Linked DNA regions of Homo sapiens. The protein of the gene in region 1 purifies or fractionates together with the protein of each later gene. This does not show direct contact. Each region holds a gene or a part of one and is shown in the gene's direction. Other genes may lie near its edges. The genes, in order: ART3, ARSK, NAGLU, PAM, POGLUT1, ITGA8 and CHD1L.

Region 1 (3,500 bases):
ACATCAGTTTATTTCAGGCTACCTTTTTTGTGTGTAAGGATTGAAGCATCGGGAACTTCATTTATCAAGCTGATTGAAGATTTTAAAATGGCCAATTTGGGAAATTCTGTTATTTCTTTCTCCTGATTTCTTAGAAGTTCAGACAACTTAGTTTAGATGATGTGGAACTTTAGCATGGGTGACTCCATTTCGATTTTTAGTCTGGTCTGTTGGGGCCTTCTGCAGAAACTTAGTCTGAAGCAATGGCCTCCTATAATTTTTATTTGACAGTAGCAAAAATTTAGAAACAACCTGTGTCCAACCATTGGGTATTGTTAAATAAAATATTACCTATATTATGAAACACTAAGCAACTTAAAAATCATGTTTTCAAAACCATCTAAAGATAGAAGAAAGTACTCTTAATACAATGGTAAATAATTGGATATAGAACTGCATATAGAGTATAATATTAACTTTTAAAAATGTATATGTATATATATGTATGCATAGCAAAATGATTGAAATACACCAGAAATGTTAAGAATGAGTAGAGTATTTCCGAGATCTGCAGTTTTAAGAGAACTTTAATTTTTAATAATTTTCTGTATTTTTCCAAATTATCTATAACGTATTATATAGTTAGGAAGCATATTTTATATATTACATATAATGCCAATTTTGGGTCGAGGTCTTTGGGTTGAATTTTTAAAAAACGAACAAGAGGTGCTTAACCTAGGAGAGATTCTGGGTCACTAGCCTTAGTTCTTATCATCAGTTAGGCTCCAGTGGGTTAAATCTCTTCTTTTTGTTACCTTGTCCTCTGCCATTTCTCAAAGCGTTCTGAGTTTTCTACTACAGAAGTCAAGTATAAGGTCAAATTAATTTTCAAGCTGATGGCATTTTTTTACTAAATAGTTCTTATTCTCGTCCTTAGGAATAAAAAGCCAGAGGCTCACTGTTTCACCTGGGAAATAATCTATTTACTGAGACTAGCTACATGGTTAGGAGACGATAAGGATTCCTAGGATTAAGAACATTGTGAAAAGCCAGCACGGTGGCTCACACCTATAATCCCAGCTCTTTGGGAGGCGTAGGCAGGAGAATCATAGTGAGTTATGATCGTGTCATTGTACCCCACCACAGCCTGAGCGACTCAGCGAGACCCTGTCTCTCAAAAAAGAAAAAAAAATATTACTGAGCCTGGAGAGTTTGAGGAATGAGTTAGACAAGAACAAAGGGACTTCATTTATTGAGTACCTTTTTTCGCTCCGTGCAGTGTACCAAGCACTTTTATGCAGTCTTTCCTTCAATCTTCACTAACTACAAACCTAAGAGGTAAATATTTCTCTTGCAAAGTGAGAAACTAAAGTTAGGAGGGATTAAGTAGTCTGCCCAAAGTCACAGAGCTAATAACTATAATTACGATAGAGCTAAACCAAGCAGAAATGTAAAACCAGTAGTGTTTCATCCAAAAACTGATATATTGGGACTGCCTTCTGAAGATAAAGCTGGAGAGACGGGTTAGATCGTGGAAGTTCTTGAAGTCCAGGCTAAGGAGTTTGGACTCTGTCACATGGAGAATGAAGAGCCATTGAAAGGTGTTTTTGTTGTTGCTGTTTCTTTTTTCTTTCCCCCTGCCTTTTTTTTTTTTTGAAAGTTGGAAATGGAGGAAATATAGACAAAAGAAGAGTATTAACAGTATAAGATAACTGATTAATACAAACCAATATTTATTTCTGCCTTTAGGTGTGAAAATCCTTGAACCCACCCAAATACCTGGTAAGACAGCTTTCTATTTACTCCCTGAGCCCAAGAATGAGTTGAGCAGGATTCCCAGGCATTTAAGAGAATACTGTCATGAGACTATTATTCATGAATATTTCCCTTATAGCTACCTGCCAGTCATCTACAAATATTTAGCTGGGGAAGCGTAGAGAAGTCTCTTTCCTCCTGTGCATTCATGTGCTCCTGGAGCATTGTCTCTGGGGCAGGAAAGTTAGTTCTGCTCTGGATGTTGCTGAGGGGAAGGCTCCTGGGATCTGGATGCATCAGTCCAACACCTTCCAGGTTCTACAGCTAAAGTTATTCAATAGAAACCTACCTTTACGCACAAGTTGACTGTTAGTCTTGGCTAACATCTCATTGCCTGTATCTCCAGGTAACAAAACACGATATTCTCCTGGCATAAACATGCTCAGTGAAGTGCTATGGCAGAAGACTCCTCTAATCATGGTGTGGATTTGTATAATAAGGGTTTACGTAAGCAGAACTTTTAAATAAAAAGCCAGAAACTATAGTGCATTGGGGCCTTGGGTGCTTGCATCTCTTAAGCTCAGCAGACAAGAGTTTGAAAATTATACTCAGTGGAGCAAACTGTAAGTCATTGGAAACTTCCTTCTCATTTAGGAATGAAAATTCCAGAACCTTTTCCACTACCTGGTAAGCAACTGATAGGCATGCCAGAGGGGAACATGCCAGTTTGGGGAGTACAGTCACCATTAGATATGCATGGGACTTTCTATGCCTCATAATTGTCATCTATCAAATGTAGCCATCAGTAGTCACATGTACATGACAGGAATATTTGTAAGGACTATAAAACCATGGAATCTCAGGGTGCAAGCCACTGTCCAATGCATAAATCCCTTTCTCCTGAGTTCATGTAGTACTTTGAAATATTTTTTTGCAGGTTTTGTTATTATGGAAATGATGATCTGTTAAGGAAATTAGATATTTGGCATCTTAAAAACTATATCCAGCCACACAGTGCTGAACTTCACGTAACGCTGCTGTCAATGGAAGCTGCGTGCTGTATAAAGAAACAGCGTTTTCCATTAGTTAAATAAAGGCTCAGAGAACATAGGCTCAGAGAAAAGGGTCCAGGACCTCTTTTATATTGACCCAAATTTGCACTGTTGGATTTATTTGGCCACAACTTTGAAGTGAACCTCTAGTGACACTGATGACACACCTTGTGCGTCTACATCTCTTCAGCTCGCTAGTCCTGAGTTTGCACAGTGCCATCATTGGGGTCTTGCTCATCTGGCTATCTGAAAGGCAGCCACCGAGCATGGTGGGAGATGAACATGAGCTGTGTAGACAGATAGACCTGGCTTCAGGAAGTCTCTGCCACTTTCCTCTGAGTAGCTTTATATAAGTTACTTCACTTTCTACGCCCCTGCTTTCACATCTGTAAAATGAGGAAAGCTTCTGTCTTGCAGGACTGATGAGATAAAGTACCTAGCAAAGTACCTAGCAAAATGAATGGTGGTAACATAGTAGTAAATGGTAGCTGCCTTTGTTATTATCTGAAAACCTCTTTCTTGTTTAGGAATAAAAATGATACAACTGAATGAAAAACCTGGTAATATATTCTTTATTGGGGGTGGAGGCACCATGGATTCTAAGTCCTTTACCATAATCATTCAGTTAGTTCAGTCTTATGGGGTCTGGGGAAGACATCTGGGCTGTACACTTTCCGATATCCCAGTCTGCAAGCCAGACAGGGAAAGTGTTGA
Region 2 (3,500 bases), on another chromosome or scaffold:
CATGATCTCATTCCTTTTTATGGCTGCGTAGTATTGCATGGTGTAGATGTACCACATTTTCTTTATCCAGTCTATTGTTGGTGGGCATTTGTGTTGATTCCATGTCTTTGCTATTGTGAATAGTGCTGCAGTGAACACACATGTGCATGTATCTTTGTAATAGAATGATGTATATTCCTTTGGGTATATACCCAGTAATTGGATTGCTAGGTCAAATGGTGTTTCTGGTTCTAAATTTTGGAGGAATTGCCACACTGTCTTCCACAATGGCTGAACTAATTTACATTCCCACCAACAGTGTAAAAGCATTCCTATTTCTCCACAACCTCTCCAAAATCTGTTGTTTCTTGACTTTGTAATAATTACCATTCTAACTGGCAATTATTTATTGCCAGTTAGACGTTTATTGAATGAGCATAATCGGTAAACATTTATTGAATGAGCATAAATGCTAAGAATTACAATGTGTTGTTGTGACTACAGTAATATGCAAGTTGTAGGCATCCTGAAGAACAAAGTGATTTACTCTACCTAGAAGAGCAGGGAATGGTGCTTTGCTAGAGAGATAATGCATGTTTGAGCTGGGTCATAAAGGAAGAATAGGAATTTGTCAAGTAGACTGTGGGAGAAAGGGCATTCACCATAAATGGCAGAGTATATGCAGAGGCAAGAAAGCGTAAACTAATATGGTGTGTGTTTAGGAGGTTCTGAGCAGGTTAGGATTGTTGAAACGTAAAGGTCTAGCAGGTAGCCGAGGGTGCTGAGTGTGGAGAGTGGACAGGGGCATTGCTTGTTATGCTAAAGAATTCGACAGTGGGCATCTATGAAAAAGTTTCAAGCAGGGATGTGACACAATGGAGTGATTAGGTAATTTAGAAAGATAGACACCAGGATAGTACAAGCAGGGGAAAGAGGAGTAGGGGCAAGACCGATTAGTAAGTAATTCCAGTTGTCCAGTTGAAAAATCAAGAGAGTCTCAACTCTGCAAATAACTCCATAGAGCAGTGAATGTCAATCCTGATTACACCTCAGAATCTGTAGGTTTTTAAATTAATATACACTCTTCTACCCAGATTCAGGAACTGCCAAAATAGGGATGACCCTTCTCTCTGGCCTGTGCTTTCTTGTGATTCTCTTAATTACAGTAGGAGGAAGTTCGAGAACACTGAGACAGGAACTGGTCAGAGGAATTTTACTGTCCCATTATTCCCTATCCAAGAAGATGCTAAATCAAACTTGTACACTATCTGTCCTGCTTCCAGCCCTTCTTCAAAGGTGGGATTTCCATAATCCTCAGCCAACTTTATGAGCATGATCTGGTGATTGCTTAGAGATTTGGGAGAAAAAGTAGCAGAGAAGAAGAGTTCTGACTGCTCTTATCACTTCCTGTTGCACAGAAACTGTGGGTCAGAGGTGATACCAATCTTTTTATCATCTGAGACATGTAAAGTGCTCATATCCAACTGATCTTTCTTTTCTCATTCAAGGCACTAAGGGGAAGATTTTTTCCCCTATTCTCTGGTAGAAACCTAGAAAACAAGCCGGCATGATCTCCAGATAAGCAGCTTTGAGCAAGAGTTCCCATGGGTATTATATTTTCTTCTTCCTCTAGTCAGCTGAAGAGCAAGCAGTAGACAGACCACTGTCAACTTTAGACTTAACTTGAGAACAGTAGGTAATATTCAGATGTTAAGAAGCATAGTGACAAACTCTTATAGGGTAGAGTGGTTATAAACTTAATGTGATAGAATAAAACATGAACTGAAAGTTTTAATCGGTTTATCATGATTTCTATTGTAGGTGAAATTATTTTGGCCCTTCATCAATTAGATCTTCTTCAGAAAACTATTGTCATATACTCCTCAGACCATGGAGAGCTGGCCATGGAACATCGACAGTTTTATAAAATGAGCATGTACGAGGCTAGTGCACATGTTCCGCTTTTGATGATGGGACCAGGAATTAAAGCCGGCCTACAAGTATCAAATGTGGTTTCTCTTGTGGATATTTACCCTACCATGCTTGGTAAGTAATGTAGTTCTGTAAATATTTATTTGTAATAATGCTGGAGAATGCAACTGAAGTTGTCAGTGAGTCAGTCTTTCAGTTAGTAGTCAGAGGTCCTGCTGACTTGTTTATAACCCTGAGCAACTCATTCAACTGTGAGTCAAATCTGTACTCTGAAGAATGAAGAGATTGTTTTTCATGTCCCTGTGGCCTTCACTTACTATAGTCATTTTCCCTCAAAAGATTTGTATTCAGGAGATGACTGTAAAGTAAGCCATGTAAGATATTCGGGTTCATAACCTTATAGATATGATTTGTACATCATTTGATTGTCTACCACCACCTCCTTAAAATGTAAGCATTTCCTTTCTGAATTATTCTATTCACTTTGAAACTAGTATGAACATATTCCTCCTCAGACTCTTTAGATAGTTCTGTACTATTTGCTTTACTAGCTTCTTAATGTCTACAAGCATAGCCATATGTCTAGAAAAGCAACATATGGATAAGGGTAGTTAGCAGTTTTTGTTGAAGATACTAGAATAACGACATAATCAAATTCAAAGGAAATCATAGAACTAACTTCTAGTTTCTATCTCATTTAGCAAAGTACTTTAAATTCATTAGCATTTAAACACTAGTTTCTCTGTTCTAAGGCACCATCAATTGGAAAAAGTACCCTCAATTCATAAATTTTGGTGAAAGAAAAAAAAATAGCACAAGTTATGTTCTCTAATTTCAGAAATGTTAAAATGTGAAAGAAAGATGCATCTTAAAATCAAAGAAATCAGAGTTCTTTTTATCTGCTTCCTTCTGCCACAAAGTTCTTCCCTTAATTTAACTAAATTTATTTAGAGTTAATTTAAACCAGCGTCCTTTCCTCTTTTATTTCATATCCCTTCTCATATAATTACACATACTTCTTTCCAGTTCCTTGAACTCTTTTTTTTTGTGTGTGTGTGATGGAGTTTCGCTTTTTCACCCAGGCTGGAGTGCAGTGGTGCGATTTCGGCTCCCTGCAACCTCTGCCTAACAGTTTCAAGTGATTCTCCTGCCTCAGCCTCCTGAGTAGCTGGGATTACAGGCGCCTGCCACCATGTCCAGCTAATTTTTGTGTTTTTAGTAGAGATGGGGTTTCACCATGTTGGCCAGGATGGTCTTGATCCCTTGACCTTGTGATCCGCTTGCCTCGGCCTCCCAAAGTGCTGGGATTACAGGCGTGAGCCACTAAGCCTGGCCAGTTCTTTGAATTTTTAATCTCTTCTGTTTCTTAGTCATCATTTGCTGGTTTCCCTTTATCCCAAAGTAATGATCACACTCAGCCATATCTGGGCCACTTTCTCATTCCATTAGTTTCTAGCTGATCACTATTACTTTTCCTCATTTCTGTGTTTTTTTTAAAGAAGTTTATATAGAACTGTGTATATTTGGGTCTCTTTTATTAGTATATTTAGAGTTTTATGAATATATATGAATTTAGAGTTTTATGAATA
Region 3 (4,277 bases), on another chromosome or scaffold:
AGGCGCTCGCCAACACGCCCGGCTAATTTTTTGTATTTTTAGTAGAGATGGAGTTTCACCGTGTTAGCCAGGAGGGTCTTGATCTCCTGACCTCGTATCCGCCCGTCTTGGCCTCCCAAAGTGCTGGGATTACAGGCGTGAGCCACCGCGCCCAGCACCTGGCTAACTTTTGTATTTTTAGTACAGACGGGGTTTCACTGTATGTTGGCCAGGCTGGTCTCAAACCCCTGACTTGAGGTGATCTGCAAGCCTCAGCCTCCCAGAGTGCTGGGATTACAGGCGTAAGCCACCGCTCCTGGCCTAAGGTTGGCTATTTTTATGGTTATTTCTTGATTATATGATAAACAAGGGGTGGGTTAGTAATGAATTTTTCAGAAAAGGGGTGGGGATCCCCCCCAACTGAAGGTTCCTCCACTGTTTAGACCATATAGGGTAACTTCTGGACGTTGCCATGGCATTTGTAAACTGCCTGGCGCTGCTAGGAGTGTCTTTAGCATACTAATGCATTATAATTAGCGTATAATGAGCAGTGAGGACGATCAGAGGTCACCTTCCTGTCTTGGTTTTGGCAGGTTTTGACCAGTTTCTTTGCTGCATTCTGTTTTATCAGCGGGGTCTTGTGACCTTTTATCTTGTGCTGACCTCCTGTCTCATCCTGTGACGAAGGCCTAACCTCCTGGGAATTCAGCCCAGCAGGTCTCTGCCTCATTTTACCCAGCCCCTGTTCAAGATGGAGTCGCTCTGGTTGGAAACTTCTGACAAAATGACAGCTCCTGTTATGTTGCTGCTGCTGCCGCCAATGGACAGCCTTTAACGTGCCCGCCAGCCCTGCTCCACCGCCGGCCTGGGCTCACATGGCCCCATCCCTCCTCGAACCTCCTAGCCTGTTAGTTACTCAAATCTGCAAGCTCTCTGCCTTCTCAGGGCCTTCAATAAATGCATTTCTTCTGTCTGGAAGGCTCTTCCTTTCCCTCTTCTAGCCAATTCCTATTCATCCCTGAGTTTCAGATTAAAAGTCACTTCCTTTGGAAACCTTACTTCGCTACTTCGCTACTTACTGCACTACTTCGCAGCATCACAACTATGATGGAAATCCTTACTTACGTTAAATATCTGGTTTCTAGGTCACCTCCCTGACGGGGACGGTAGGGACCGTCTTCTCGTTCATCAGTAGGGAAGTAGCTATGGCAGTGCCTGATACAAAATAAACTCCAAATGTGTATTTATTAGATGGTTGGATGGAAGTTATTTGCGTGTGAAAGCGCGTTTTACCCGAAGGCGCTCTGTGAGGGCCAGCGGGTCCCCTTCGGCCCTGGAGCCGGGGTCACACGCTCCCCACCGCGTGCGGTCACGAGACGCCCCCAAGGGAGTATCCTGGTACCCGGAAGCCGCGACTCCTGGCCCTGAGCCCGGGCTTAGCCTTCGGGTCCACGTGGCCGGAGGCCGGCAGCTGATTGGACGCGGGCCGCCCCACCCCCTGGCCGTCGCGGGACCCGCAGGACTGAGACCATGGAGGCGGTGGCGGTGGCCGCGGCGGTGGGGGTCCTTCTCCTGGCCGGGGCCGGGGGCGCGGCAGGCGACGAGGCCCGGGAGGCGGCGGCCGTGCGGGCGCTCGTGGCCCGGCTGCTGGGGCCAGGCCCCGCGGCCGACTTCTCCGTGTCGGTGGAGCGCGCTCTGGCTGCCAAGCCGGGCTTGGACACCTACAGCCTGGGCGGCGGCGGCGCGGCGCGCGTGCGGGTGCGCGGCTCCACGGGCGTGGCGGCCGCCGCGGGGCTGCACCGCTACCTGCGCGACTTCTGTGGCTGCCACGTGGCCTGGTCCGGCTCTCAGCTGCGCCTGCCGCGGCCACTGCCAGCCGTGCCGGGGGAGCTGACCGAGGCCACGCCCAACAGGTACCGCCCCGAAGCTTCCCCGCGTCCGCCCGAGGCGCTTACCCCCTCCCGGAGCCGCTGCCACCCAAATCGGGAGGCTGAGCGGGGAGCGCTGGCCGGAAGGCCCAGCTGCGCCGCCTCCAGCAGCTGTGTGGCCTTGAGCCAGCCACTCTGCCTTTCAGAGCCTCGGCTGGCCCACCTGAAAAACGGAAAGAAGACGCCTACCGTGCAGTGTTATTGTGAGGATTTGCACGATGATGGGCATAGAATTTGTGGTGCACAATTGGTGATGAGTGAATTTTCTTGCCTTCCTCCCCCACCTTCTCTTTGAACCTGCGGACTGAGGAAGGACGCCTCCATCCCCCACCCTACAGGCCTGTGTTCCAGCGCCTGCCACACTATGGAGTGATGTGTTCACACAGCTGTCCTCCCCTGCCCATCTGTTAGACTGTGGGGGCAGGGATTCCCCGTTCCAGGAAAACACCGTGCAGAGGAGGGGCTCTGGCAGTGTGGCATGAAAGTGGAATATGCCACCCAAATACCCGCCAGGCTAGAGGGCCCTGGGAGAGTGCAGGGGACGAGTGCCTCAGAAGCCCAGCCCCGGTACCTGGTCTCAGCTCCACCTGGGGTGGGTCCCAGTGTGCAGCAGAAGGGCCGAGTTTGGAGCCCCTCCCCTCTCCTCTAGGTGGGGGATGGGGGATTTGTTCCAGGGCCGTGGACCCTCCAGGGTGGGATGCGCCCCTGCTCATGACACTGCCCGCAGGTACCGCTATTACCAGAATGTGTGCACGCAAAGCTACTCTTTCGTGTGGTGGGACTGGGCCCGCTGGGAGCGAGAGATAGACTGGATGGCGCTGAATGGCATCAACCTGGCACTGGCCTGGAGCGGCCAGGAGGCCATCTGGCAGCGGGTGCGTGCCCACTGTCCCTTCCCCACCCTCCTCTATGGCGGGAGCCACCGTAGGTGTTTTCACCCGCCCCCCAGCATGGGCGCAGTGTCTCTCTCTAGAAGTGCTTTCAGCGTGCACAGTGGCTTGGGCCTCCTAAAAACTGAGGCTTCCGGCCGGGCGCGGTGGCTCACGCCTGTCATCCCAGCACTTCGGGAGGCCTAGGCGGGCGGATCAGGAGTTCAGGAGATCGAGACCATCCTGGCCAACATTGTGAAACCCCGTCTCTACTAAAATACAAAGAAATAGCAACCTGGGCAACAGAGCGAGACTCTGTCTAAAAAAAAAAAAAAAAAAAACTGAGGCTTCCAGTTTGAGGAGTGGGGCTCCTTCCCCCATCTCCCCTATGCAGCCAATCACCTGGTCCCTTGGATCCAACTCATGGGCAGCTCTAGATCTGCCTCCCTGGAAGCTTCTGTGCTGCAATGGCTGCTCCAGGCTCTGCTTAAGCTCTTCACACAGTTGCCCTGCCCTTCCATCTGGCACTCTTGCTCCATGAAGCCTTCTAAGGCCTTCCTGTTGGGGGAAAGCCCCTTTGTGCCCCATCTCCTCACCCATGCGACAAAGGCAACACAGTGAACTCACCTACTCACAGGTCTCTTTCCTCTGGGCTGTGGGCTCCTTGATGGCAGCGTTCGGATTTTGTCTCAGTAGCCCTAGCACCCAGCACAAAGAAGCAATGAGTGAATGGTTGTTGAATGAATGAATGAATGAATGAAGATGAATATATTTCTATGTGTGGGCCCTTCTTCCTCAGGTGTACCTGGCCTTGGGCCTGACCCAGGCAGAGATCAATGAGTTCTTTACTGGTCCTGCCTTCCTGGCCTGGGGGCGAATGGGCAACCTGCACACCTGGGATGGCCCCCTGCCCCCCTCCTGGCACATCAAGCAGCTTTACCTGCAGGTAAAAGGATGGAAAAGGGAAGGGGCAGAATCGGTGATAGATGGTCATGGGCCCAGGAAGGGTGGTATTAGGCCGGCCCCAGGGCTCTTAACTGAGGCGGGGGGCTGCGTGTATCCTGGGAGATGAGGGCCTTCTCATAGGACAGCAGTGGCCATGCTCACCACCCTTCCTTCTGTTCCTCCAGCACCGGGTCCTGGACCAGATGCGCTCCTTCGGCATGACCCCAGTGCTGCCTGCATTCGCGGGGCATGTTCCCGAGGCTGTCACCAGGTGAGGTTCCGCTCACCCCCTCCACTTAGCTCAGAGAGGGAATTTTATTCCCTTCTAGAACATGACTTAAAAACTTAAGCTCTGGGCCGGGCGCAGTGGCTCACGCCTGTAATCCCAGCACTTTGGGAGGCCGAGTTGGGCGGATCACCTGAGGTCAGGAGTTCGAGACCAGCCTGGCCAACATGGTGAAACCCTGTCTCTACTAAAAATATAAAAATTAGCTGGGCATGGTGGCACGCGCCTGTAATCCCATCTACTTAGGAGGCTGAGACAGGAGAATTGCTT
Region 4 (3,500 bases), on another chromosome or scaffold:
CACATTAAGGCATGGCAGGCTGAGGGGCAGCCTGAGGGACATAATGTTAACTTTACACTTGGCTTTATTGTTCCATACCTTTGTTTTTCTATTTGTGAAATGAGATTAAAGATCCTTCTTACTGCCCTGGAAGCCGTGTCATCTGGTATAATAGCCATAAATGCTTCTTGTGTGTATAAGAACTTTCTTTACCATTTGAATGCGAAAGCTAATTATTAAAACCACATACAAATAGCTCAAAAGATGGGCTGTGAATAAAGCTGCTGTTGGTGTCATGTGCTCTCAGGTATCCTGGCAGAAATTTCAGTCATCATGTATCCCTACAATTTACTGTGTTGTGGAGAATAAGGCCTTCATTTTATCTGGGGTTGAATGTTTACCTCTCCAAAATGGGAATAATGAAATACTAACCTGAAAGGACTGTTGTCAGCATTAAATGAGCTAATCCATGTGTGGTTCTTAGCACATTGCCAGTATACAGCTATTGCTCTATGACTCAAGTAGTTATTTTAGTTTCTCCAGGGTAGGGGGAGGGGGGAAGGAATGGAATTTCAGTGGTCCACATTTTAAAAATGAATACATATATAAAAATATAAATACACTCTTCCCCAATATTTTGAAATAGCCATTCCTCAGCTAACTTTTTTCATTCATTTATGCAACAAGTGTTTATTCAGCCCACACTAAACGTTTGGCTTTTTCCTAGGCACTGACATACAATGGTATACAAGACAGTTATAGTCACTTTCTTATGACTGAAAGGTCTAGAGAGGGATGCAGATCTGTAAACAGAGAATTATAAATTTATAAAGAAAATTTTTAAAAAATTATAATGCCATATGATTCATGCCATGATAAGGGTAGTGAAGAGAACCTCAGAAGATAGGATAGCAGGGTCCTGGGTAGGTGAATGTCACACAGTGCATCATCTCATCCTAATTGGGTTGGTGGTGGTGAAGGAAAACTTCCTAGCAGCATGAATACATGAAGACCTGAAGCATGAGTGGTAGTTAGCAGCTGAAGAGGTGGGAAGATTGAAAGAGACCAAAGGGAGCATGATGCCTTAGAATGGAAGTCAGGCAGAAAATGTTAAACAATACATAGGTAAGAGCAGGAGGGAGAGGCGTGGCAATCTGGAGAATCCAAGCTGTCTAAAGGGAAAAGTAGATACTCATTTCAGCCAAGTATTGTCAGGTTGGGATGCAGGCCAAGTGTTGCCAGATGCCTTGATTTCTAAAGAGGAGCTTAAAATTCATATTTTATAAATATGAAATCTCCCAAATATGAACTAACCCAAATGTTTTAAAAACTATTCTGTGGGCCAAACCAGACAAATCTGTAGTTGGAATTCAACCTAGGGCCACCACTTTATGACCTCTACATGTAAGAAACTGAGAGGAGTTTAATGTGGCTAAAGGCATAAACCTTAAACGGACAAGCAAGGGAAGCACTGGCTTTGTGGAACTTGCTAAGGAGGGGTGGCCTAATTCTAAGGACAGTGGGTGACATTGAAGACTGAAACAAGATGAGATTTGTGTTACAAGATGCAGTCTAGCTACTGTATAGAGAATGAGTGGGAGGAGGCAGTGGTGGAAGAAAGATAACCATTTGGAAGCTTACCGTGGTCATAGGAAGAAATTAAGTGTGGCTAAAAGCAAGGTATTCAAGCAGGTGGGAGATGAGTGGATTTCAGAGATATGTATGATACCCCTATGTTGGGATTCAATTCTCCATTAGTCACTCAGACTTTTGCATGTCTTGTGAGCAAAGGCATTTACTGCTTTCATCCCAGACTCTCTTAAAGACATTTGTATGGTAGATAGTTTTGGAAGATAGAGGTATTCTTTCCCTCTGAAGCAAAGGGCAGGTAGGTTTTACTGTCCAGTTTAAAAGATTCAAGTACCCTAAGCTCAGGGTTCCCCTCTGACAATGCAGATCATCAAGTATCTGCTTCACATCACATGGGGGGAACTGAGTTTCAGGACATTGGCACAACTATGCTGATACTACTGCTACTGATATTTTTGTGAGTAGTATAGTCCTTTGTTTCTCACCCTAGAATTTTCTGTCTTCTTCCAGCATCCCCATGAAACTGTGGCACCCTGATTTCGTTAGCCTGCAAGTAGGATAAAAATCTCAGACCCTTAATTATTGATAGCCACTAGCCACATTGTCTGTTTAAATTTAAGTATAAATTAATTAAAAATGGAATACGATTTTAAAAATCCATTCCTCAGTTGCAGTAGCCACATTTCAAATGCTTAATAGCCATACAAGGCTAGTGGATACTGTACTGGGCAGAGAAGATATAGAAAATTTCCATCATTGCAGATAGTTTTATTGGACATTGCTGGTTTAAAGCTTCAAATTTTGTTTGTGTTGGTGAGTGAGTAGAGACAGTAGAAGTTGTTGATTTCGACAGCATAAAAATGATGTTTGACTTCATGTTAGATTCACAGGAGTCCCTTTAATACAAAGAAAATATTTCTGTTTGGATAACCTATACAGTACTTAGTTCAGGCCTCTTGGGGAAAAGAAAAGTGGAAAAGTATCTACACTGTCAATTTGGAGACTGGGCAGACTGGGACCATGTAGCAACAGAAGTTCTACATATAAACAGCGTTACTCAAATCATGTGTGATTGTGAGATTAGGATCTGTGCCCAAAGGAGATTGAACTGCTGAACACTGTCTTGAGCTTTGTCTACTAACCATGCTTAACACAAAAGGACAAGAATTGCATGTTAACAGTGAGGGTCTGGAGCATAGCCAGTCCAGCAGCACCTCGGCAGTGCCTGCTGCAACCCAGCTGTGCTGGTGTGGTCTCACAGAAAGGATGGAGGACAGGAACAAGATTTCCAGATGGCTCTTGTTCAGGGAGTTTAAGAGGGTAGCTTCAAGAAAGGAGGGAACTGGACTCAAAAAATATAAAACATAATACTTTAAAGTACAACTTTAAATGACACCGCAGAATTAAGGAAACAATCAAAGCAGCAGATCTGCTTCCCTATCAGATAGGAGAAGCTCATTTTGTAGAGAGTGTGGGCCACAAGTACTGGGAAGCAAATGCACAAAGAATAATAGGTCCAGCCAACAGTTGCAGTAACAAAGGACGGTTTTTACCTGCATTGAGTGTACAGTTCACTGCTGCATGTACAACATAAGCAAAACAAAAACAGTGGTAGAAATAAATAAAAGTAAAGTCTGAGGCCCTTATGGAAGAATCATACTACTACCTGCTTTTTCCGTGGCTAAAAATGCCTTATAAATTTCATATCTTGAGAATTTCACTTATTTATGCCAAAGTAAGTTTGTTTTAAAATAGTACTCATTTGTAGTGCAGTAACATTTTACTTATATAAAGATTAATTCAAGCTTTTAAAAGTCTGAAGTTTAGAATATTTTAAAGATAGAATTTATTATTTTTAAGCACTTATGTTATCTTTTAGAACTCTTTTGAAGGGAACTTTTATGAAGATATTAGTTAATTTTGAATAGCAT
Region 5 (3,500 bases), on another chromosome or scaffold:
AAGGTGTTATCCAGTTACTCCACCGTGTAGTTATTAATACCATTTTCCCCCAGGTAAACTAGTAAGCAATTTTTAGGCAGATAGAATGTTTTAAAGTCTAATCTTATATGAATACTTTTTTCTTTTGATACCTTCCCATTTTATTCAATTGAATTTATTCATGGTTATAGAAATACAATTTTGTTTTTTAGAACCCTCTGTTTAGAATCTCTAATGATGTTCATTTGTTACCTTGAAAATTTAATAATCTGCTTGTTTATCCATCTGCACTGATGTCTGCCTGCCACTGTTCATTCTATTTTTCTGATATTTTGGGAGTTTGTGCCCACTGATTTATATTTCACTCTGTAGAAGAATTCATTGTTCTTTACAGATCGAAGATTTCATTTGTTACTGTCAGAGAGGGTTTAAAAAAGAGGGCTGGGGTAGCACCAGGCTGTGGTGGCCACCGTTAGCACTTGCCTGGAGAAACAAGTCCTAACCTAGGTCTTTTGAGGGAGGATGGGTAGGTTAGGAGAATGAAAGAGAGAGAACAGTGATACACAGTTTGGGTTTGTGTATATGAAACACAGCTTCCCCAGGAGCCAAGGAAATAAAGAGAAGTAACTTTGAGTATAAATTGATACATGTTTTGTTAGATAGTTTGACAATATGTATCAAAATTGGAAATGTATACTGTGTATCCTTTGACCTAGCTGTTTCATGTCTAGAATGTATCCTAAGGAATTAATCAGATGAATGTGCAAAGATTTGTGTACAAGGATGTTTACTACCATGTTGTTTCTTAGAGCAGAAAGTTGGAAACTACCTAAAAGTCCATCAATAAAGGATGAAGTGAATCATAACATGACTATAAAATGGAATTTTTGCAGTGAGTCTTTGCCAGAGATTATAAAATGGAATATCGTGCATGAATGGAAAGGCAGTGTAGGTTTTAAAAACTCTGGGTTCAAATCCTGGCTCTTATTAGCTGCATGACTCTGTGCAAGTTGCTTAACCTCTAAAGGACCTCATTTGTAAAATAGGGGTGATAAAACCTACCTCTTAAGATTGTGAGAATGATTTTTTATTTACAAAGCACTTAAAACAATGTCTGTAACATAGTGAAGTGCTATATAGATGTTGGCTGTTATTATTATTTATATTTCCTATTAAGATTGTTACCTAACAGTATGTATGGTGTGACCTCTGTTACATAGAGCAAAGTTTCTCAGTACTAGTGTTGCTGACATTTGGGGCTGGATAATTCTTTGTCCTGGGAGCTGTCCTAACCACTGTAGGATTGTTCAGCAGCATTTCTGATCTTTACCCACTAAATGCCAGTAGCAGTCCCCTAGTAGTAACAATCAAAAATGTCTACAGACATGGCCAAATGTCCCCTGGGTGGGAGGGACGGGCAAAATTACCCCCAGTTGAAAGCTACTAATATGAATAAATGATTGCAAGGAAATTCTCGGCTAAAATGTTACATTGTTACCTCTGGACAGGGAGATTCCAGACGACTTCTTACTTTTATCTTTATGCTTTTTCATGAGAACTTTGCATGAGGAGCATGAAACATTTTCCACTAAAAACAAAACAACAAAAATCCAGTGCTATAGTGTCTCTGCTTGGGCAGGAAGAAGTATGGGGAAAACAAGATAGTTCTGGCCTTAGACTGGAGAATCAGGTAAAGGTGATCCATCCAGAAAAGGCCAGAGGATGAGCCACGTTGGCTGAGGGTGGAGGTCTGAGGGCCTGGAAAATACTGAGCAGCGTTCTCAGCTGAGTGAAAATGAGCAGCATGACATTATATGTATCTGAAAAGGACCTGTGCCTAGAAAGTTTATATCCTAAGTTTCTCCGTTACTGTAATCCAGCCCATCAATCCCTCATTAACTTCAGTTCAGCCTTCCCTTCCTTTTTCAGAGAAGATGCTGTGCAGACTTCTGTGCAGGGAGGGTTCCTACGAAGCAAGTTAAGAATGATGCATCTGTGAGCTAGCAGTTTCAGTAAGGAAGGCTGGTCATGGTAATGTGTACTGAGATCTGACTTTCAAGGACTTCATCTTTATAGAGCACTTAGTCTGGCTTTAAGAATACAAAGGTGCTTTTCAAATATCAAACTAAATCTGATGACACTTCCCACCTATGGAAAACATAAAATCAGAGAGTGATTTCCCTTTCATTCCATTTCTGATGCTTTTTTATTTTTTTGCAGTTCTGTACACATAATTAATTTCATCAGTAGCACCCTACTTAAAGTACAGAGGAAATCCACATTTGCCAAATTATAAACAGACCTAATCATGACCTTCAGGGTTTGGGGGCTTTTCTTTCAATGTTGTTAACTTGTTAATGGGGAGTAGATTTGTAGATACAACTGGGTAGCACCTCCAGAGCAATGAAATGGTAGCAAAAGGAAACAAAGTGTCCTTTAGGGCTTTTTCTTTTGAGTGACTTTGATTAGACTTACTTAGAAATATGAAGCTCTGGCCAGGCACAGTGGCTCACGCCTGTAATCCCAGCACTTTGGGAGGCCGAGGCAGGCGGATCACGAAGTCAGGAGATAGAGACCATCCTGGCTAACACGGTGAAACCCTGTCTCTACTAAAAAATACACAAAATTAGCCGGGCGTGGTGGCGGGCGCCTGTGGTCCCAGCTACTCAGGAGGCTGAGGCAGGAGAATGGCATGAACCCAGGAAGGGGAGCTTGCAGTCAGCCAAGATCGCGCCACTGCACTCCAGCCTGGACGACAGTGCGAGACTCCGTCTCAAAAAAAAAAAAGAAATATGAAGCTCTGAACTAATCTTCAGAAATGGTTAAAGCACATTCTTATATAGTTGAAAAAGATATATTGAAACTAATTAAATTCTATATTCTTAGGTCAGCAGCACAGTGGCCATGGAAAAAGAAAAACTCTACAGCATATTTCCGAGGATCAAGGTGAGTTATTTTCTGACATTTTACAAAGATATTCTTCCAAGTAATGTAAAATGTAAGTAACTTTGAGGGTATGACAAGCTCTGTAGTTCAAAGGGAAAGCTAAGATAACAAAGAAAGAAATGTGGAATCACAATTTTAGATTCGAGAATAATTCACATTATTTGCCGAAATCGCCATTGATTGAGTTGATATTCAAAGAAGTAAAGTTCATCCATTTCAGTCATTTAACAGATATTTTACATAGTGTCACAAATGTGTCGGTCATTGATTATGTGATGCCAAACACAACAGATGGGTGTCTTCTTACAGTCCCTAGGAGTAGCTTATGATCATGCCACGGTACTCTGCTGGTTAATGCAGAGCAGGACTCATCACCATATCTCTTGACTGCCTTTTTTATCACACCCTGTGGCTGCCAAATAGTGGTTAAGAGCACAGACTGAGACTGCTGAAAATGAAGAAGGGAGCAGGGAGGAAAGAGAAGAGAAAAATGGCAAAGGTAGTAGGAGGACCCTGTGTTGTTCAGCTCCATAGTCCCAAGGCCAAGAACAGTTCCTAGCATGTCAATATATGAT
Region 6 (3,500 bases), on another chromosome or scaffold:
GTGTGTGTGTGTGTGTGTGTAATTAGAAATATATAGAGAAAATGATATTCGTTATCTGGGATTAGGTAAAGGAAGGCTTCTACTTTAGATTCAAAACTTTATTAACCAATAAATTACTACTATTTTCTATAGCTTTTCTTTAAGAGTATGTGCATCTGTCACAGGCCAGAGCATTGCAAACACAATAGGTAAGCATGTTTTCATTTTTACATTCTTATGGTATACTAAGAAAGTTGAACAGTAACCATTTCTCTGCACAGACCATAAAAAAATGAAAGAACCCTTGAGGAATACCAAGATATCTGTTGCATATATGGAACCTTCTAATAAATATTACTTCAATACTTGGTAATACTATTATTTATAAGAACATATAATTGTAGGGAAAATGACAACTTTTATAAAACCATTATAAAACATTTGTAGCTTGGAGAGTATGTTATACAATTTTTCCAGCTCATTTATCATGCTTGGTCTCAACTATGAAAAAGAACTGTTTCCTGAATAAGCAACTTGAAATAGAAATTCATCTCTCTGATAGAGCACTGTGTTCACTGAATACTTTTTCTCTACTTTACTTCTGTCCTTTAGTCTTGATGGCAGAGGTGCAATTAGATTCCCTGAAACAGAAAGGAGCTATTAAACGGACGCTCTTCCTTGATAACCATCAGGCTCATCGCGTCTTCCCTCTTGTGATAAAAAGGCAGAAATCCCACCAGTGCCAGGATTTCATCGTTTACCTTCGAGTAAGTATTCCAGAAAGACTTCTCTGGCCTCTCTCCTTCATATCCAAATTCCAACCATTTTTCTCCATTTAACCATCATGTTTGTCTGCATAGACCCCCATCTGTCTGTTTTCATTTTCATAGCAGGAAACTTTATTTTAGGGTCAAATACTCTCCTCTTGACCCTGACTTCAACTAACCTGATGATGTGTTGCTATTAATTTCTAAGGCTTCTTTTCATTTTGATCAAAATCTTTATAATGGCATTCAGCTCACATGGTTTTCATTTCTACCCACCTCCTCCCCAAAATACATAAAAGTGCAACACAGTTTATGTGAATTTTTCTCCTATGTGAGTATGTCTTGTTAGATTTTATCAATGCATGTTTCAGAGCCAATTCAGGAAAATATTTAGGCATTCAAAGCTTTTATTAGAAGTAACTTATAATTATCTTATTTAAAGTAATGTCTTTTTACAATGACTTCAAAACCTACCGAAATTTTAAAGTAAAAATATTTATAACACAATTACCTATCTTCACCTTGCCGGTTGTGAGGTTGTGATAACTGTCTCAATTTCTCTTTTCCATTAGGGGACTTAGTTAGCAAGGACCACCCTAGGGAAGATCACAGGTTCACAATCACACTCAAGAATGAAAAGTTGGATACCTGACCCTTGATTGGCAAACAATTGAAGGGTGACATATCCACCGTGTGTTTAGTGCTTGCTGTTTGGTGCTTACCCCTCTCTACTAAAGGAGTTCTGTTTCTTTTTCCAAAAGAACTTCAAATATCCTGAAGGTGTTCTGAAGTTCATGCAGGCAAGGGCTTAAAAAGATGATGAGAGGAAGAGAATCAAGATGTTTTCTTCTTCTGAGCCCCAAGAGAGAACTCATAAATTCTGGCAACCTCACGAAAATAAAAATCCAAATTCATGATGTTTTTTGTGACATTTATGATATACACGTGTAATCTTTTACTTTGCAACTTGACCAGTTCTGCATGAGTTGTTGAAGGTCTGGAGAACCCAAAGATTGGCTCCAGAAGCGTATTTCAATGAAGCCGCAGCTCTAAATGATTTCATCACTGCACATATATTAGGTATGCTGGCTACTATATACCACATAAATCAGCCTCCATCTAAGCCTGCTGCAAAGATAATTGTTTCATCATTCACTTTCATTGAGTAAATTCCAGTGTTGCCTGACTTTTGCAGACTGACATCTTGCAGCTATTTCATGGAGCCTCTGTTGAGTTTGTGATTATTTTTCCTAGGATGAAACTGAATTCCGAGATAAATTATCTCCAATCAACATTAGTTTGAATTACAGTTTGGACGAATCCACCTTTAAAGAAGGCCTGGAAGTGAAACCAATATTGAACTACTACAGAGAAAACATTGTTAGTGAACAGGTAAGTCCTTCACAGTCTTTGACGGCATTTTCTCAAGCAAGCTCTCTGGGGTGTTGTTCTCATGGCTTTAAGACTAAAGCCAGCTCCTTTCATTTTTACTTCTGCATGCAGACATGGAACATTTGGGAGTTTTCCTACCATGTTTCCTGAAACACTGCATGATTGTGTTTTTCGGAAGCCTTTCCTCTTGTGCAATCAAGATTTAATTTGTTCAAAATGTGGCTGTAATGGAAGCAATACAGCCTGTAATCCTCAAGCCATAGGCAGAGTTGCATTCTTTGCAGATATTTCAGAGTGCATTGGAATTGGGCTATTATGTAAAGTAGCCTGTATTGGGAGGTCACTGTGAAATGTAGGCTATTGGCTTGGGTAGAGTCATGCATAGTGAGAGGAAAGCTCTGGTTCCGTTTGTGGCACCATTCAGAATTTTCAAGAAAAAGGATGTGAATCAGATTTTCCTAGATTGTTCCTGACGTGCGTTTATACAACACAGGCTCACATTCTGGTGGACTGTGGAGAAGACAATCTGTGTGTTCCTGACTTGAAGCTGTCGGCTAGACCGTAAGTTTAAATAACTAAATGTGTACTTTCTATCTAATGGAATTACAGGTATTTATGTAAAGGTTCTCTGGAGAAAGTATACACTTCCAATAACTACCAAAAACTATGCTGCGTGAAATTCTTGAGCTTGGCTACACTTTGGGTTAGCCTGTGGTTTGGGTCAGTTATTTGTCATTGGTGTCAAATGACACACCCTAAGATTTTGCCTGGGTCGTTTCATCTTTCAGCAAAAGTGGGGAAAAAAATGTTTTTGTTGAAAGTAAACTCATTGATGGGGTGGCTCGGGTTATGTTTACTTGCCTCAGTCAAGTAGACAAAGGATTCAGACAGGCAGGTTCCATCTACACCTTCAACCAAACTTTTTTTCAGCACCCCATGACTCAAAGCCATCCTTAAAACTGTCAAAACAAAATTAATTTTAACTTATTGAATAAATAAACCTAAATAGCACTCTATGGAGTAAAGCAGAAGGTGTCACAAAATTGAAACGAATCAAAGGGCTTCACAGTTGCCAGTAATGGACGCCCCCATTCCAGCACTGGAAATTGCACTGTATTCTGTTATGGGAAGACATGGACTAGGATGTAAAACATTCTGTGGTCAAGAAACAGATTTGTGTTTCTTTCCCTCCCAGGAACTATCTCACTGCCAGTGTTTGGAATCTGCTTGGTAACTTCTCAGAGGGACTTCCCCCAAATTTCATAATTTATCAACTTCAAATGCAATCGCTTTAAGTAAGGTTAAAAAGTGGAGTAGGCATTTCCAACTATTGGCTTGATTTGCAGTTCTAAGTGAACTGCA
Region 7 (3,500 bases), on another chromosome or scaffold:
ATTCTTCAGTGTCAGTGGGATGGGAAATGAAATACCTTCCTTCATATGGACTTAGCCCATTTAGAATATAGGCTGTTCTCCTGTCCACTTTTGTTATTGATTTGAATAGCATTAATCTATTTTTCCTTGGTATCTAACATTTCTCTCTTTGTGTTTTATGTTGTTAGAAAATCATATGTACTTATTTGAAGGTAAAGATTATTCTAAAGAGCCCAGTAAGGAAGACAGAAAATCATTTGAACAACTGGTAAACCTTCAGAAAACCCTTTTGGAGAAAGCTAGTCAAGAGGGCCGATCACTCCGAAATAAAGGCAGTGTAAGAACTGTTAATTTATTTAAAAGTTGTTCTTCCAAACTCTCATTCTAAAACAAACAAAAAAATGATGCTGGCATCGTTTTGTTCTCTTAGGATGATTTGTCAAGAAATAAGTATGTGTTTGCTGAAATGTTATTATAATTAACTATACCCTAGTATAAAAACTATGTAAAAAAGTCAGCATGAAAAACATAAAGGAGAGAATATATTGTACGATGTCATGTAGGTGAAAGCAGCCTTGTCCATCCAAGTCACCCCTAAAGGCATTCCTATATTATACCAAAATACCATATCCTGCTGTTGGTAATGATGACCCTATGACAAGAAGAGAGGATGGCAATCATAAATGATATATGTAGTGTTCACAGTGTTTGGCAGTTAACGTGGTCATTAAATGCTAGCTATCACTAAGATAATCATGATGTTGAAATACAATCTTAAAAAAGTTACATAATACATTGCAGAAAGAGTTCCATTAAAAATGGCTGAAGTGGCATCCTGCAGGGTATGCTTTTAGTCAAGGAAAAAAGTTACTTTTCTGAAGTAACTTATTCCTAATGAAATGAATCAAAATGACTGTTTCAACCATGCCAATGCTAGGGCTGAGTTTACAGCATGGTATCCTGGTCACTGTGCCTGTGAAGTGTGTAGTATGAACAGTGCCTCCAAGTGCTTTGCCTCCAGTTCCCACCATGCAGGGTGTGTGGAGATGCAGTGTTCTGTGGAATATTAAGCATGTTGCTTCCGTACAGTGTGTGTTAGGGATAATGAAATTCGGGGAGGAATCTTCTTGACCCTGGTGATGGATCTTGTTCTTCCTCTAGGTTCTCATCCCAGGCCTTGTGGAGGGATCTACCAAAAGGAAGCGGGTTCTGAGTCCAGAAGAGCTGGAGGACAGACAGAAGAAAAGACAAGAAGCAGCTGCCAAGAGAAGGAGACTCATAGAGGAGAAGAAGAGGCAAAAGGAAGAGGCTGAACATAAGAAAAAGTATGTCTGCGTTAACCAAGCTGGCGGCCACAGTTGAAGGAGTCACTATTGTATAGTGAGACCACAGTTGAATATCACTTTAAAAATACAGAAAATTCATTTTAAGTTGGTTCCTATTGGTAACAGAATACTTTCTGAAAACATTTCCTCTAGGTAAGTGAAAAGTCTCAGTGTATAAGGCAGGGAAGATGCATTCCATTAAAACCAGAATTGTTTTCTTTTTTCTTTTGAGATGGGTTCTTGCTCTGTTACCCAGGCTGGAGTACAGTGGTATGGGCACAGCTCATTCAGCCTCAACTTCCCATGCTCAGTGATCTACCCACTATAACCTCCCTAGTAGCTGGGAACACAGGTGTGTGCCACCATGCCTGGCTAATTTTTTTTATTATTTGTAGAGACAGAGTTTCACGGTGTTGCCTAGGCTGGTCTCAAGATCCTAGGCCCAAGCTGTCTTTCTGCCTTGACCTCCAAAGTGCTGGGATTACAGGCGTGAGCTACCATGCCCGGCCAAAACCAGAAGATTTTAAGATTTTATTGTAGCTATCTGACAAAGAATAATTTACTTCAACAATCTCTTTTAGTCTTAAAAACAGGAACATTCAGGGAGTGCTCATTATTGAATTGTAGTCAGGAAGCAGTTAGCCTAATCAGTAAGACTTGTTTACAAATAAGTAGAAAACTTCAATCAGGGTGAGTTTCTAATTGCATTTCTACTTGGCAGATATTGTTTGTGAACAGCAGTATAAAATGTGCTCCAAGGGAAATTGTGATTGTCTGGGTTAATTTCCTTTTGTCTCTGGCCTGCTAAAGGATGGCCTGGTGGGAATCCAACAATTACCAGTCCTTCTGCCTGCCCTCTGAGGAGAGCGAGCCAGAGGACCTTGAGAATGGGGAAGAGAGCTCTGCTGAGCTGGATTACCAAGACCCAGATGCTACTTCCCTCAAGTACGTTAGTGGTGATGTCACCCACCCTCAGGCTGGGGCCGAGGATGCTCTCATTGTGCACTGCGTAGGTACGAGAAGTGGTATGGGCTGGGGATGGGGGCCTCAGTCCTTATGGTGCCAAGAACTGGGGAGGATGGGGCACTGGGACTGGGGTGGTGGTCCCAGTGTAGTATTGTACAGTCAAAAAAGTGTGAATTTTAGAGTCAGGAGATATTCCAGAATCATTTCACTCTTGGCTTTCTCATTTACCTGGTTTAGTTACCCAACCTTTCAACTTCAACTTCCTTATCCATATGATGGGACAATATCTGTCTTATCCTCTGCACAAGGTTTTTAAGAGGGTGAAATGAAGCAACATTGATAAGACAAACAAATCCTTTGAGAAAAAGCAAAACTTCAAGCTTGTTCCCTTGCTTGACCTTTGTACTTTTTACTTCATCTGCCTAAAACCCTTTCTTCCCAAATAACCACATCAAGTGTTGTTCAAATGTCTGTTTCTCAGAGAGGTCTTCTGTGATTACCTCATATAAAACAGGCCCCATCCCCCCTGTTATTCTCTGTCCCTTCTCCCATATTTTCCTTTATCACACCTGTCCCACCTGACACATTACCTATGTATTTGTTTATTTGACTGTTGCTTTGCATTAAAAAATACACTTATGGCAGCAGGGGTTTTTTCTTGTTCGCTGCTGTGACTGTGGTGCCTAGAACGATGCCTTACGTGTAATACATGCTACCAAACGTTTGTAGTGTGAATGAATGACTATAAATGCTAAGATACTAAGCAGCTTTGTTAGTACCAGCTTGAATAAGTCACTTAACCTTTCCTGTGTACTGTTTCATAACCTTGCCTATGTGCTGTTGCATAACCTATTGCTTCTACTCACTCTGTAATGTTCCATCTACTCTCCGTCCTTCCGCAGTCATTTGCCAGGAATCACAGATGCACCACAGAGATTTTGCTCATTGAGAACCCTAATTTTTGAGATGCTTTCCTGTTATCATGGCCCCAGCTATATCTTCCAGAAAACATAAACATATTTGGGAAGTCCAACCTGTGATATTCCTAGGAGATAAGATATTTTGTTTCTTCCCTTTGAAAAATCATTCTTCCACAAGTCCCTTTTGTGTGCCTTTGTTTTTCTAAATTGTGCACTGGACTTCACCTCCTATAGATGAAAATTTTCTCTTTCTTCAAACAGATGACTCTGGCCACTGGGGCAGAGGTGGTTTATTTACAGCTCTGGAAAA

Evidence for each region.
Region 2: the proteins of ART3 (region 1) and ARSK purify together in Homo sapiens (affinity purification with mass spectrometry, with the first as the bait; 2 studies listed by BioGRID). This does not show direct contact.
Region 3: the proteins of ART3 (region 1) and NAGLU purify together in Homo sapiens (affinity purification with mass spectrometry, with the first as the bait; 2 studies listed by BioGRID). This does not show direct contact.
Region 4: the proteins of ART3 (region 1) and PAM purify together in Homo sapiens (affinity purification with mass spectrometry; 3 studies listed by BioGRID and IntAct, with this or other methods). This does not show direct contact.
Region 5: the proteins of ART3 (region 1) and POGLUT1 purify together in Homo sapiens (affinity purification with mass spectrometry; 3 studies listed by BioGRID and IntAct, with this or other methods). This does not show direct contact.
Region 6: the proteins of ART3 (region 1) and ITGA8 purify together in Homo sapiens (affinity purification with mass spectrometry, with the first as the bait; 2 studies listed by BioGRID). This does not show direct contact.
Region 7: the proteins of ART3 (region 1) and CHD1L purify together in Homo sapiens (affinity purification with mass spectrometry; 2 studies listed by BioGRID and IntAct, with this or other methods). This does not show direct contact.

The regions. Positions count from the first base shown.
Region 1 is NC_000004.12:76,102,209-76,105,708, forward strand, and holds part of ART3 (ecto-ADP-ribosyltransferase 3 isoform a precursor), read left to right. Parts: intron 1-1,728; coding exon 1,729-1,761; intron 1,762-2,140; coding exon of another isoform or gene 2,141-2,241; intron 2,242-2,388; coding exon 2,389-2,421; intron 2,422-3,313; coding exon of another isoform or gene 3,314-3,500.
Region 2 is NC_000005.10:95,589,601-95,593,100, forward strand, and holds part of ARSK (arylsulfatase K precursor), read left to right. Parts: intron 1-1,800; coding exon 1,801-2,025; intron 2,026-3,500. UniProt on the Homo sapiens protein: Catalyzes the hydrolysis of pseudosubstrates such as p-nitrocatechol sulfate and p-nitrophenyl sulfate. Catalyzes the hydrolysis of the 2-sulfate groups of the 2-O-sulfo-D-glucuronate residues of chondroitin sulfate, heparin and heparitin sulfate.
Region 3 is NC_000017.11:42,534,764-42,539,040, forward strand, and holds the start of NAGLU (alpha-N-acetylglucosaminidase precursor), read left to right. Parts: upstream 1-1,477; 5' UTR 1,478-1,509; coding exon 1,510-1,892; intron 1,893-2,053; coding exon of another isoform or gene 2,054-2,110; intron 2,111-2,634; coding exon 2,635-2,782; intron 2,783-3,575; coding exon 3,576-3,722; intron 3,723-3,906; coding exon 3,907-3,992; intron 3,993-4,277. UniProt on the Homo sapiens protein: Involved in the degradation of heparan sulfate.
Region 4 is NC_000005.10:102,758,305-102,761,804, forward strand, and holds part of PAM (peptidyl-glycine alpha-amidating monooxygenase isoform e preproprotein), read left to right. Parts: intron 1-3,500. UniProt on the Homo sapiens protein: Bifunctional enzyme that catalyzes amidation of the C-terminus of proteins. Alpha-amidation is present at the C-terminus of many endocrine hormones and neuropeptides and is required for their activity.
Region 5 is NC_000003.12:119,482,463-119,485,962, forward strand, and holds part of POGLUT1 (protein O-glucosyltransferase 1 precursor), read left to right. Parts: intron 1-2,865; coding exon 2,866-2,925; intron 2,926-3,500. UniProt on the Homo sapiens protein: Dual specificity glycosyltransferase that catalyzes the transfer of glucose and xylose from UDP-glucose and UDP-xylose, respectively, to a serine residue found in the consensus sequence of C-X-S-X-P-C.
Region 6 is NC_000010.11:15,604,923-15,608,422, reverse strand, and holds part of ITGA8 (integrin alpha-8 isoform 1 preproprotein), read left to right. Parts: intron 1-132; coding exon 133-188; intron 189-591; coding exon 592-746; intron 747-2,000; coding exon 2,001-2,138; intron 2,139-2,631; coding exon 2,632-2,699; intron 2,700-3,500. UniProt on the Homo sapiens protein: Integrin alpha-8/beta-1 functions in the genesis of kidney and probably of other organs by regulating the recruitment of mesenchymal cells into epithelial structures.
Region 7 is NC_000001.11:147,284,184-147,287,683, forward strand, and holds part of CHD1L (chromodomain-helicase-DNA-binding protein 1-like), read left to right. Parts: intron 1-167; coding exon 168-316; intron 317-1,140; coding exon 1,141-1,304; intron 1,305-2,114; coding exon 2,115-2,317; intron 2,318-3,451; coding exon 3,452-3,500. UniProt on the Homo sapiens protein: ATP-dependent chromatin remodeler that mediates chromatin-remodeling following DNA damage.